Linked DNA regions of Homo sapiens. The protein of the gene in region 2 interacts with the protein of the main gene of each other region in a pairwise test. Each region holds a gene or a part of one and is shown on either strand. Other genes may lie near its edges. The genes, in order: PCSK5, NR1D2, LGALS8 and CLOCK.

Region 1 (3,573 bases), on a different chromosome or scaffold from region 2:
CACCACCAGGGTCAGGCTATTTATAAATTAGATACTTTTTTTGGACATCGTGGTAGACTGAATAATGGCCCCCCTGAAGATGACACATCCTGATCCCCAGATCCTGTAAATGTATTACTCTACTTGGTAAAGGACTTTGGGGCAGTGATTTAGTTGAGGATCTCGGCATAGAGAGATTATCCTGCATTATCCACGTAGACCCAATGCCATCACAAGGGTCTGATAAGAGAGATGCCGGGGGTGGGCCAGGCATGGTGGCTCACGCCTGTAATCCCAGCACTTTGGGAGGCCGAGGTGGGCGGATCACAAGGTCAGGAGATCGAGACCATCCTGGCTAAAACGGTGAAACCCCGTCTCTACTAAAAATACAAAAAATTAGCTGGGTGTGGTGGCAGGTGCCTGTAGTCCCAGCTACTCGGGAGGCTTAGGCAGGAGAATGGTGTGAACCCGGAAGGTGGAGCTTGCAGTGAGCCAAGATTGTGCCACTGCACTCCAGCCTGGGCGACAGAGTGAGACTCCATCTCAAAAAAAAAAAAAAAGAGAGATGCCAGGGGATCAGAGTCAGTAATAGAAGGTGATGTGATCAGAAGCAGAGGGACAGAGAGAAGCTACTGCACTGCTGCCTTTGAAGACAGAGGAAGGGGCCATGAGCCAAGGCATGCAGGTGGACTCTAGCAAGTGGAAAAGGAAAGGAAACAGATTCCCTCCTAGAGCCTCTAAAAGGAACAGAGCCCTGTGGATCTATTTTGGACTTCTGACCTCCAGAACAGTAAGATAATAAATTGTTGTTTCAAGGCCCCAAGTTGGGGATACTTCATAGGAACAGCAATAAGAGACTAATACGGCGGTGTTTTTCCTTCAGGAAGCTGGGGCTTCCCCCTAGTTAACCAGATACATGAGCTGGACAATGAGCCATTGCCAACATCCACAGGCGCCGGACTGTAGTTTCTGTTCTACCCACCACAGCTAATCCACTGAGAAATTTGGGTGGGACACAGATGAGATTTGGATCTCTGATGAGATGAGATGGGATCACTGATGAGATTTGGGTGGGACACAGAGCCAAACCATATCACTGACTTCTGTTTTCCTTGTATTCCTCATGGCCTTAGGGCAATTCTGTTTCTTGGACACTAATCTTATTTCCCAAACATATCCATCAGCTCACAGGATCATCCCATTCCTCCTGCAGCCCTCTCCTCCCTCCCGCCATGGTACACAAGAGGGAAAATACAGGGGAGACATGTGTCATGCTCGATGTCCAAATAGACATTTTTTCTCCCATGACAGACACAACCTGTGTGAAGGACTGCCCAGAGGGCTATTATGCCGATGAGGACAGCAACCGGTGTGCCCACTGCCACAGCTCTTGCAGGACATGTGAAGGGAGACACAGCAGGCAGTGCCACTCCTGCCGACCGGGCTGGTTCCAGCTAGGAAAAGAGTGCCTGCTCCAGTGCAGGGAAGGGTAAGTGCTCAATACATTTTCCCCCATGTAATTTCACAGCCACAGCAGATATCAACCCATTTTACAAATGAGGAAACTAAGATTCAGAACACTTATAAAACCAGGTTGAAGTCTCAGTGCTAGTAAGGAGCAAAGATGAACCAATTCACAGTAACAGAAGAGAAACAGGAGAGGCAGAGTGACCGAGTGAGTTAACACAAAGGGTCAGATTGTCAAGCCGGACTCACCTGAGCAATTGATCTTCCTCAACGACAGTCCTTACTGAAAATTCAAAGCATATTGGCAGCTGGGCACTGTGGCTCATGCCTGTAATCCCAACTACGTGGGAGGTTGAGGCTGGAGGATCACTTAAGGCAGGAGTTTGAACCAGTATGGGCAACATCTTGAGACCCCATCTGTAAAATATTAAAATAAGATTAGCTGGGCATGGTGCCATCAGGCTATAGTCCCAGCTTCTATAGAAGCTGAGGCAGGGGATGATCACTTGAACCCAGGAGTTGGAGGCTGCAGTAAGCTATGATTGCACCACTGCACTCCAGCCTCAGTGACAGAGCAAGACCTTGTTTCTAAAAATTAAAACAATTTGGCAAAGGGTCTCAGCAATCACAAGGCAGAAGCAAAGCATCCTTTCCTCAGAGAAGCCCAAGATCATTAATGGAGGTTCTTTTTCTTCACCTTCAGGACTTGTTCTGATTCAGATTTAAAATTCAGGGTCTCACATTCTCCCAACCTGCTTATGTGAGGAGAGCAGTGAGTGTGGAACATTGATTTACAAAGGAAATAGTTCCATTAACATCTCCATTTATTCCCCATTAATTCCCCAACCTGTCATGTCACCTATAAATCCACAAATTACAGGTTTTGTTATCATAAACAACGTAGACACACGCACTTGATGTATCCTTCTAAAAGCATTTCATGGATAAGGACTCTATTATTTTTCTGCTAGGAAGAACTGTTAGTGTTATCAGAAGGTCTGATTGCCAGCATATCCTTTTTCTCCCCCAGGCATTCCCAGTAAAGAGTAAAAGATTGATGATAGGCCTGTTGCTGACTCTTTCTACCCAATCAATAACCTAGAGCACTGGGAGTTTCCAGACCCAAATCAAGGGCTGTAACCTTAGACCTTCCTCAAATGCTTTCACCCAAATTGACACATCTCTTCGGTCCTATAGCAGTTACTGCTTGTTTCATTCATTTTAGTGCTATATGCTGCCTTGCATTTTGATTTATCTCATTCATTCACTTATTTATTTAACACATTTCATGATGAGTACTTTGTATGTATAAATAAGATGAGTAAAAGAAAGACTGACTGTGTTTGTTTTCACGCGGCTGATAAAGACATACCCAAAGACTGGGCAATTTACAAACTAAAGAGGTTTAATTCGACTTACAGTTCCATGTGGATGGGGAGGCCTCACAATCATGGCAGAAGGCAAGTAGGAGCAAGTCACATCTTATGTGGATAGCGGCAGGCAAAGAGAGAGAATGAGAGCCAGGCGAAACGGGTTTCTCCTTATCAAACCGTCAGATCTCGTAAGACTTATTCACAACAGCAAGAACAGCATGGGGGAAACCGCCCCTACAATCCAACCATCTCCCACAGGGTCCCTCCCACAGCACATGGGAATTATGGGAGTACAATTCAAGATGAGATTTGGGTGAGACACAGAACCAAACCATATCACTGACTTTAAGAGTTTATTCTTATTTTTATATGCCTCTTCCCAAGAAAATTATAAACTCATGGAAGAAAAACACCTCTTACGTCTTACATTTGCTTCTACAACACTCAGCACAGAGCCACACATTGGCAGCTCTTGAAAAACACCAGCCAGGCTGGGCAGGGTGGCTCACGCCTATAATCCCAGCACTTTGGGAGGCCGAGGTGGGTGGGAGGTGAGGTTAGGAGTTTGAGACCAGCCTGGCCAACAGGGTGAAACCCCATCTCTACTAAAAATACAAAAACTAGCCAGGCATGGTGGCACGTGCCTGTCATCCCAGCTACTTGGGAGGCTGAGGGAGGAGAATTGCTTGAACCCAGGAGGCCAAGGTTGCAGTGAGCCAAGATCACACCACTGCACTCCAACCTGGAGCAAGAT
Region 2 (3,573 bases):
TATCTGGCCTCTGTAGGTGAAGTAAATTGACACAGCTGCCTGTGGAGAGATATCCCTTTCCACCTTTTATTGATTGACTTCTCTGTCTGAATTCTTAATTGTTATCCAGAGAATTGTTTTCTTAGTTCTGGTTGCATATCTGGTATAAAGTAACTCTAAATTTACAAAATTTCTTATTTCCTGCTGACAGGTCTGGAAAAAAAATAAATTTACAAAATTTCAGTGTAATTCTAAAATCAGGAAAGGAAAAATCCGGGTCAGCGAGGTATTTTTGTCAGTGCCATAAGTTGTATTTAAAAGAAAATTATGGCTGGGTGTGGTGGCTCACACCTGTAATCCCAATATTTTTGGAGGCTGAGTGGGGCGGAGTCCAGGAGTTCAAGACCAGCCTGGGCAACATGGCAAAACCCCATCTCTACTAAAAATACAAAAATTAGCTGGGTGTGGTGGTGCATGCCTGTAGTAGTCCCAGCTACTTGGGAGGCTGAGGCATGAGAATCACATGAACCTGGGAAGTGTGGAGGTTGCAATGAGCTGAGATCACGCCACTGCGTTCCAGCCTGGGCGACAGAGGGAGACTCTATCTTTAAAACAAAACAAAGCAAAACAAAAAAAAAACACCGTAAGAAAATTATGATTGTGATTACTTTTGATTTGAAAATATTTTTCTTTTACATTATGAAAGTAGATGTGTATCTTCTAAAAGCTCTTACACGTTGAATGAAATAAAATATCTAATTGGAAAGAAAACAGACTCGGTGTTTCCTCCTACTTTTTACTTCGTGTCCTTTTGTGTCCTAGAATTTAGTGGCATGGTTCTACTGTGTAAAGTCTGTGGGGATGTGGCGTCAGGATTCCACTATGGAGTTCATGCTTGCGAAGGCTGTAAGGTAAAGCATGCTTTTGTTTCTTTAAGCTACTGATTCTGGGATTTAAGAAGTTGGGTTTAGATTTACCCATTTGTGCAATTGATAGTCTGAGAGACAGTGAGAAGTCAGCTGCTCTTTTTAAGTTTTAAGCATTTTATGTAGTGTATAAGCATAACTTGTTTTGAATAATATTCTTAATTCAGTGAAAGTATTTCTTTTTTCTTTAAGATTTTGAACAAAGTAAATTTGCTATCTCAATTAAACATACTTATTGTGTTAAACCAAGTGCACCAAATGCTCATTCATTAATGTGTCAAGCACAGTTCTAGGTGGTAGTGAAATAACAAGGAACAAAACAGAGAAGGCACTACTTCTGCCTTGTGGGAACTTAGTTTAAACCAAACTTTGAATTAGGATCTCATCATATACTTTGACTTAATGACACGTCAGGTACTGGGAGCTGGGAATAATTGCTACATACTTGAAAAAAATGTGGTATCTTAAAAAATAATGCCAAGTGAGTAAAATAATCCTGAATATAAGTTGAGCCCTTGGGAAAGCTAGTTTATTTGTAAGTTTAGTTGACTATTTTCTAGTTATTGCTATTAGAGTATTGGTCAAATAATTCCAAGTGAGATGGTCTCTACCTCCCTACCTATATACAGGGAATCTTTCTCTCTTTTTAAAAAACTTGGCACAATCTTTTCTCCTGAGTATCAAAAATTAACGTGATGAAGACACATGTTCTTGCTGTTCTCTGACTTGAGGCCACAAGCAAGAATCTAGTTTGGCGAGATATGATGGGTAAACAAGATAATGAATATACATGATGGGAGAGGAAATATTTTCAAGTGTGGCTCTGAATGAATTGCGAGTTTGCCAGTTTTTTTTTTTTTAGATGGAGTTTTGCTCTTATTTCCCAGGCTGAAGTGCAGTGGTGTGATCTTGGTTCACTGCAACCTCTGCCTCCTGGGTTCAAGTGATTCTCCTGTCTCAGCCTCCCGAGTAGCTGGGATTACAGGCACACGCCACCACTCCAGGCTAATTTTTGTATTTTTAGTAGATTCGGGGTTTCATCACATTGGCCAGGCTGGTCTTGAACTCCTAACCTCAGGTGATCTGCCCGCCTCGGCTTCGCAAAGTGCTGGGATTACAGGCGTGAGCCACGCGCCCTGCCAAGTTTGCTAACTTTTAATGGCCGGGTAACTTTGTAAGACAAGTCAGTATTTTTTATAGATGTAGCATTTTTTTCATTGTTTAAAAAAGATTCTCCTTCTCTATATATCTTTTTTTTTTTTTTTTTTTTTTTTTACAAAAATGTGAAGTAATAGGCCAGGTGCGGTGGCTCACGCCTGTAATCCCAGCACTTTGGGAGGCCGAGGCGGGCGGATCACGAGGTCAGGAGATCGAGACCATCCTGGCTAACATAGTGAAACCCTGTCTCTACTAAAAATACAAAAAAAAAAAAATTAGCCGGACGTAGTGGTGGGCGCCTGTAGTCCCAGCTACTCGGGAGGCTGAGGCAGGAGAATGGCGTGAACCCGGGAGGCGGAGCTTGCAGTGAGCTGAGATTGCACCACTGCACTCCAAGCCTGGGCGACAGAGCCAGATTCCGTCTCAAAAAAAAAAAAAGTGAAGTAATATTGGGGAAGGCATTATTCTTACTTTATAGCTAGAAAATAAAAGCACAAACTGAATGAGCTGATTGCATATTCTTGATAAATACACATCTGTGCAGTACTCTTAAAATGTCTAGTTCAGCTCTTGTAGTATCTAAGTCAAGTGTATAGTATCACAATAATAAAATATAAAAATGTTGTGTCCCATGACTACTTAGTATAGATTCGGGAAATGTGTTTAGTTGTCATATAAAAGGAAAATGCAGTTTAAAATAATTTCAGTAATTGCATTCTTGAGTTTTCTGTCCTCCCTGGTACCATGAAACTGGAGATCTTTGGAGACCTATCACAGAACATGTACTGGAATTGTTTGTGTGTGGAGTAAAGGCAGCTGTTTGTAGCCATCTAGTTGGGAACTGTCTTTCCTTGGATAGTTAGCTACTCTGTTGGTGTGTGGTGTAACACTTACCTGTTGCTGGCACGTAGTCAGTGATTTCTGTCATGTATAAGTAGGCCTTGCCATTGTCAGCAGGTAATGATCCTGGAAAGACCAACTTCTGTTAATGTAATCCACAATCTAGTGAGGGGATTATAGCTATCAAACATATTTCTCAGTCCACTTTTTAAGAAGTAGTCATTTAGGCTGGGTGCAGTGGCTCAGGCCTGTAATTCTAGCTCTTTGGGAGGCTGAAGCTGTAGGATTGCTTGAGGTGGAGTGTGAGACCCACCTGGGCAACATAGGGAGACCCTACCTCTACAAAAAATAAAAAAGCTGGATGTGGTAGCACATGTCTGTAGTCCCAGCTCTTGGGAGGCTGAGGCAGAAGGATTGCTTGAGCCCGGGAGTTCGAAGTTGCGGTGAGCTATTATTACGTCATTGTACTCCAGCCTGGGTGACAGAGCAAGACCCTGTCTCTTTAAAAAAAAAAAAAAAAAAAAAAAGCCTGGACATGGTGGCTCGTGCCTGTAATCCTAGCACTTTGGGAGGCCAAGGTGGGCGGATCAGTTGAGGTCAGGAGTTCAAAACCAGCCTGGCCAACATGGTGAAACCCTGTCTCTACTAAAAATACAAAAAATTAGCCAGG
Region 3 (3,573 bases), on a different chromosome or scaffold from region 2:
TAAGTAATTTTGTTTATGTAAACGTACATTTGTTAAATTTTTTTTCTTAGGTAATCCCGTTTGTTGGCACCATTCCTGATCAGCTGGATCCTGGAACTTTGATTGTGATACGTGGGCATGTTCCTAGTGACGCAGACAGGTAAAATCACTGTGCTAAAGGAAGGAGCATGAATAGGCTGTCTTTTTGTGATTGTGGAATGATAACAGAGTAAGGCGGGAGAGACCATTTGATACTTTGAGGCCCAATTAGCTTTCATCAGCAGCCCTGGCCAAGGTGCTGAGGAGATTGGAATGAATGACTAAATAAAGGTTATTGGGATTTATTTCATTGCTGTAAGTCTGATTTCAGTATAAAAAATTAGAACTATCAGCTGGATGTGGTGACTTAAACATACTTTTCCAGCACTTTGGGAGGCCAAGGCAGGAGGATTGTTTGAGGCCAGGAGTTTGAGACCAGCCTGGGCAACATAGTGAGACCCCCCATCTGTAAAAAAAAAAAAAATTTAAAAATTAACTGGCTTGGTGGTGTGCGCCTGTAGTTGTAGCTACTCAGGGGGCTGAGGTAGGAGGATTCCTTGAGCCCAGGAGTTTGAGGTTGCAGTGAGCTGTGATCGAGCCACTGCACTATAGCCTGGGTGACAAAAAAAAAAAAGAAAAAGAAAAAGAATTAGGTATGTCATTAAAGAAAGGAATTGTGGTCAGATGACAGGGACAGTCTAGTTTTAGTCTGACATTCCCACAGCATTACAGATCTAGTTCAGATGGTTTTACTGAATACCTGCTTTGGATACAAGCTGTGGTATCATTAGTGTTGGGCTCAGCTCTGTGTACCTAACACCTGAAGAGCAGTGGTTTAAGATGTGAAAATTAAGTCTCAAGGAGACAGCCCAGGCCTTTTCAGTTAACTCCTTCAAGTCGTTAGAGAAGTAGACTCCTTCGAGCTCACCACTCTGTTATCTTGAGGGTGAGGTAAGGTCCCCTTTCCCGTTTTCCTTGGCAGCCAGATTTCCAGCCCTCACTTCTGTGCTTTGGGTAGCTGGATGGGTGCATGTGGTGTTTGCGGGGAAACAGAGCTGGACAAAAGGCAAGTGCTTGCTGACTTCTAAGGCAGTTTCCAGTAGCCTTCCCTGAGCACTTCACTTCCATCTTACCAGCAGAGCTTTAGCTGCACAGGCAGGCCTAGCTGCGAGGGAGGCTGGGAAAGGTAGGTTTTTATTCTGGGCAGATTCAGACCCAGTTCAAACTCAGGGGCTATTTTACTGAGGAAGACAGAAAAGATTAGACAGTCAGCTCTTTAGGCCTCATAGTGAATGAATGAGGAGGGATTGGTCAGTCCCTTGTCACTGGGCCTGGAGTGTAGTGCCTGCTGGTCCTTTACTGGTGGCTTTCCTTTCTGAGCACTCATGGGGCCCCTGTGTCTTCCCTCATATAGATTCCAGGTGGATCTGCAGAATGGCAGCAGCATGAAACCTCGAGCCGATGTGGCCTTTCATTTCAATCCTCGTTTCAAAAGGGCCGGCTGCATTGTTTGCAATACTTTGATAAATGAAAAATGGGGACGGGAAGAGATCACCTATGACACGCCTTTCAAAAGAGAAAAGTCTTTTGAGATCGTGATTATGGTGCTGAAGGACAAATTCCAGGTAGGTTTTGGAGAGGGACAGGTTGAGTCCTCATTAGTGAGCAGGAGTGCACAGGGGTGCTTTTCACATTTGTGAGCCCAGCCTTATATTTCCTACACCTGAGATATAGTTTGTTTGGCTTTGTAGTTTTTCTCCATAAAAGGACCAGGAAGGCACCTAAATGTGAGGTATGGCACCACTACTCTCCAGCCAGTTGTTGCCATGCAGAAATATGGTCCACTGTGACCAGATCTTTTTATTAGATCCTATTTCTCCTAGCAGGGCTGAGTTCCGAATTGACACAGTATTATGTTCATGATGGGAGGGTAAGTTATAATATAACCGCCACCACCCGAAGAGCTAACAAGGGCAATCCCAGCGAAGAAATCAGAAGGGTTTTGTAAATTCAAGTCTTGCCACAAGACAGTTCCGTAGGATCATGAGATTTTAGACCCAGAGGAGATCCTAGAAATCCTTGATGTCAGTTCCATCTCTGGCTTCATGGAGTGTCTTGTACCTAGCGTGTATGTGTACGGTTGAATTTGGTCCCAGAAGCTTACACCTGCTGGCCCTCTGGCCTGTGGAGCTTGCCCACAGTAGAGGTATGTACCAACGCGAGAGAAGACTCGAATGCCTCTGGCGCAGATCCTTTCTGATCTTCGGGATACTGCTCCTGCCCGAAAGTCTTTCTGAATCTCCCAAACTCCATTCACCTCTCCCTTCTCTGGCCTTTTGAGCCCGTGTCTGTATCATTCTTTTTCACAGTTTTTAACAGTTGTGCTTTGGCTTTACGTGTTTATTTTGCCTCCACAATGGGATTTTAAGCTCCCTGAGTCAGAGACTATATTGTATGCTGCTCGCGTTTTCTGCCTATAACCTAACGTGGTACCTGGCATTTGAGAGGGAGGGAGGAGGAGCCTCGTAGCGTGCCGAGGACCTGCAGAAGCTACTTTCTCGTCATCTTACTGTAGTCTGTTGAGGTAGAGACTGTTCCTACTTCAGAATAAGAAAACCGAATTCAAATATGTTGGGTAACTTGTCCATATTAATTTATTTAGCAAATACAACAGATTTTGAGTGTCTGCCACATGGGTGGTCTCCAGGGACAGTGTTGTGGGGAGCTCGCAGGCAGATCTTTAACCTGGGTTCACAATCTCCAGGGCACCTGTGCCTGGGCTTCCAGGCGACCTTCGAACCCAGATGTCTCACATGTATGCAGAGGCGCACACAAGCACACGCACATATACTTATGACTGCCTGTTTGTCTGGGGAGAGACAGTTCCTGGTGCTTAATCAAATCAGGAACTCAAAAGAAGTTTGGAAGCACTGCTAGTGTTTTGGGTGCTTTCGGTTACCATTTGGTCATGTGTGTGGAGACCTGTGGGAACAGGTATAAAACTGGACGCAAGGAAACATTTAAATTTGGATAATAAGTTAATTTATTAACTGTTTTTTTTTGGTGGCGGGGGGGGCTCTGTCTTCTGTATCTCTCTAGGTGGCTGTAAATGGAAAACATACTCTGCTCTATGGCCACAGGATCGGCCCAGAGAAAATAGACACTCTGGGCATTTATGGCAAAGTGAATATTCACTCAATTGGTTTTAGCTTCAGCTCGGTGAGTGACCTTCCACAGCTTGGGGTCTTTTATGAGGATGGTTTCTGATGAGATGGTAGAAAAAATCTTCAAATAACACTTCTATTGACATAAAAAGGACGTATCTCCCTGACTGTAGTATTAATTTTTTGGAAGTGAACTGTTCACACTAGCAGAAGGCTGTTTATCAGCCAGGGCTTCATTGTCTGTAGGATCTCAAACCTAGTGTGGTTTTAATAAAACACACACAGTTTTTAGCTGGGTAGCAGCTATTTCCTTTGCATGGGCATAAAATGGAGTATTTCTGTAAGACAGGTTCCTAGGCTGGGAGTGCCTGAGTCAAAGAGCACAGTCATG
Region 4 (2,327 bases), on a different chromosome or scaffold from region 2:
TACTTCCCCAACACAGTCAAAGGCCAGTATGACAGAACCAATGGCACATGATGCCTCTATTTTGCCCATTTGGGGAAATGTTAGTAAAAGAAATAGCATCTTTTAATGGCTGTCATTATCATATCCATATTAAAATCCATTTAAAGTTCTTAAATTTGGCGGAATAATGTATACAGGCTGTAAACTTCTACAAAAAATGTTTGCTGTCTTTAATATGGTGTCAAGTTACTTGGTCCTTTGAAAACAAAACAAAACTTCCATACACAGCACTGCCCAGTAAAGCAGTGTTGGAATATTGGAAACCTAGACATTTGAGGATCCTTCTTGCTCACAAGCATTGGAACAGAATCCTCCACTTTAGGACTCAGAGAAGCTATGGAGTCCCACAGGCTAGGTATAGCACACAACTTAGAGAACGGTAGTTAAAGCACGTCAACCACAATTGAATTTAATGATCTAAAAAATATTTCTTAACTCTGAGGGTTAAACTGAAGATACGTTTTCAAATAAAAGCTTTTAAATTTCTTAGGAAACAAACTGTGACATCGCTTTTAAAAATGACATTCAAATGTTTATAATGTGTGTTTTTGAGTTGGCTTGGACTAGTGCAAGTTCACTGCTGGCAATGGTTATGCCAGTAGTTAAGTTAAAATAAGTTGTTACCTTCAGATTGATGTCTTGTATAACCAGACAATCATCTTCAAGCAAAAAAATTGGCCAGGAAATGTCTTTTTAAAAAAAAAAAAAAAAAAAAAGATGTGTCAGCCAGAACAGTTACCATTCAGACCATACTGGAATGATTTTGAAATCTTTACTATGGTTTAAGTTGGGGAAGGCCTCAGTATGGCATTTTCATATTCACTCTATGTAAAGATTGAAGCCCAAAGATGAGTTAAATTCAGTGCTGTATTGAAACCAGTCAGTGCAAAAAAAAAAAAAAAGTTTTACCTTTGTAAATTTTTCATTGTTAACATCAGTTGGTAGTTGTTAAAACATGCACCAAATTCTTTATAATGTTCTGTGTGGTTCTCAATGTGATATTCTTGACATTGCTGTCCTTACTGCTTGGTTCTTGGTTTTAAATTAAAAAGTAGATGTAGCTCATCATTTTTACTTCCAAAACGGTGGAGCTAAAAACGGCTAATTGATCTTGAGATAAGAATACCCTTTACTAAGGCAAAGATTTAATTGAAATCCAAAATGATTTATAGAAACGAAAGGCATTTTCCATTTGTTGTCTTCTGCCGAAATTCTGAATTGCATACACACATGAAGGATAATGAATGGTTTCAACGGTGCTATATTAGGTTCTCTGATTTTCATGACCTATGTATGTTTGGAAATACAATATTGTATAAAATGTGGATCGTTTTGTTACCGATTTAATATTGCCATTTTAATTTGGTGTAACAATTGGTTACACTTGTTTTTCAAAGCTATCCTTTGAGGAGAAAGTCAAAATGTGTTGTTAGCCTACCTCCACTCAGGCCTCTTGCTGTGTAATCATTATTCCAGGTTATGATGTGCATAGCTTTTAAAACTGCGTGTACTATTATTCTGCTCTTTCCCATACTCTTGTCATGTATTCAGAACCTAAACTTATAGCAAAAGAGCCAAGCAGTAGCAGTTTTTGTAAATGTAAAAATAATTAGATCCAGACTTTGTTTCCTTCAATTTTAAAAATAAAAAATACCTCAGTGCTATGTTTTTCAGTTATCACCTGCATTTCTCAAAAAATAACACCTGCTTCATGTGGCACATAACTTGTAAGAATCACATTTTGGATTTTAAAGAAAGACTATTAAATATTTTAAGATCACTATCAATGACATTTCCCTTTCTTTTATTCAACAATGGAGCCTATTGCAGTAGCGATTTTTACCTTATAGCTTAGGTCTGACTTACCAAAAATTCTCAGAGGAATTATGTCCTGCTACAAGATTGTGGTGCCTCAGAATGCGATGCTGTTCTTATTCGCATATGAAGCTAGTAATGGGACCAAGCTACCTGAACTGAGGTTACACGATGATGGTGCCAGCTACTCCCTACGAGGAATTGTCTTTTCTGTTGTTATTAGAAAAAACGGTTGGGTGCGGTGGCTCACGCCTGTAATCCTAGCACTTTGGGAGGCTGAGGTGGGTGGATCACCTAAGGTCATGAGTTCAAGACCAGCCTGGCCAACATGGTAAAACCCTGTCTCTACTGAAAATACAAAAAAATTAGCCAGGCGTGGTGGCGGGCACCTATAATCCCTGCAACTTGGGAGGCTGAGGCAGGAGAACTGCTTGAACTCAGGAGGCAGAGGTTGCAGTGAGCCGAGATTGCGC

What was found.
Region 1: the proteins of NR1D2 (region 2) and PCSK5 interact in a two-hybrid assay, tested with the Homo sapiens proteins (one large-scale study listed by BioGRID).
Region 3: the proteins of NR1D2 (region 2) and LGALS8 interact in a two-hybrid assay, tested with the Homo sapiens proteins (one large-scale study listed by BioGRID).
Region 4: the proteins of NR1D2 (region 2) and CLOCK interact in a two-hybrid assay, tested with the Homo sapiens proteins (one study listed by BioGRID).

The regions. Positions count from the first base shown.
Region 1 is NC_000009.12:76,331,143-76,334,715, forward strand, and holds part of PCSK5 (proprotein convertase subtilisin/kexin type 5 isoform 3 precursor), read left to right. Parts: exon of another isoform or gene 1-411; intron 412-1,290; coding exon 1,291-1,468; intron 1,469-3,573. UniProt on the Homo sapiens protein: Serine endoprotease that processes various proproteins by cleavage at paired basic amino acids, recognizing the RXXX[KR]R consensus motif. Likely functions in the constitutive and regulated secretory pathways.
Region 2 is NC_000003.12:23,955,236-23,958,808, forward strand, and holds part of NR1D2 (nuclear receptor subfamily 1 group D member 2), read left to right. Parts: intron 1-801; coding exon 802-890; intron 891-3,573. UniProt on the Homo sapiens protein: Transcriptional repressor which coordinates circadian rhythm and metabolic pathways in a heme-dependent manner.
Region 3 is NC_000001.11:236,537,447-236,541,019, forward strand, and holds part of LGALS8 (galectin-8), read left to right. Parts: intron 1-50; coding exon 51-139; intron 140-1,432; coding exon 1,433-1,643; intron 1,644-3,117; coding exon 3,118-3,237; intron 3,238-3,573.
Region 4 is NC_000004.12:55,427,402-55,429,728, reverse strand, and holds the end of CLOCK (circadian locomoter output cycles protein kaput), read left to right. Parts: 3' UTR 1-1,826; downstream 1,827-2,327. UniProt on the Homo sapiens protein: Transcriptional activator which forms a core component of the circadian clock.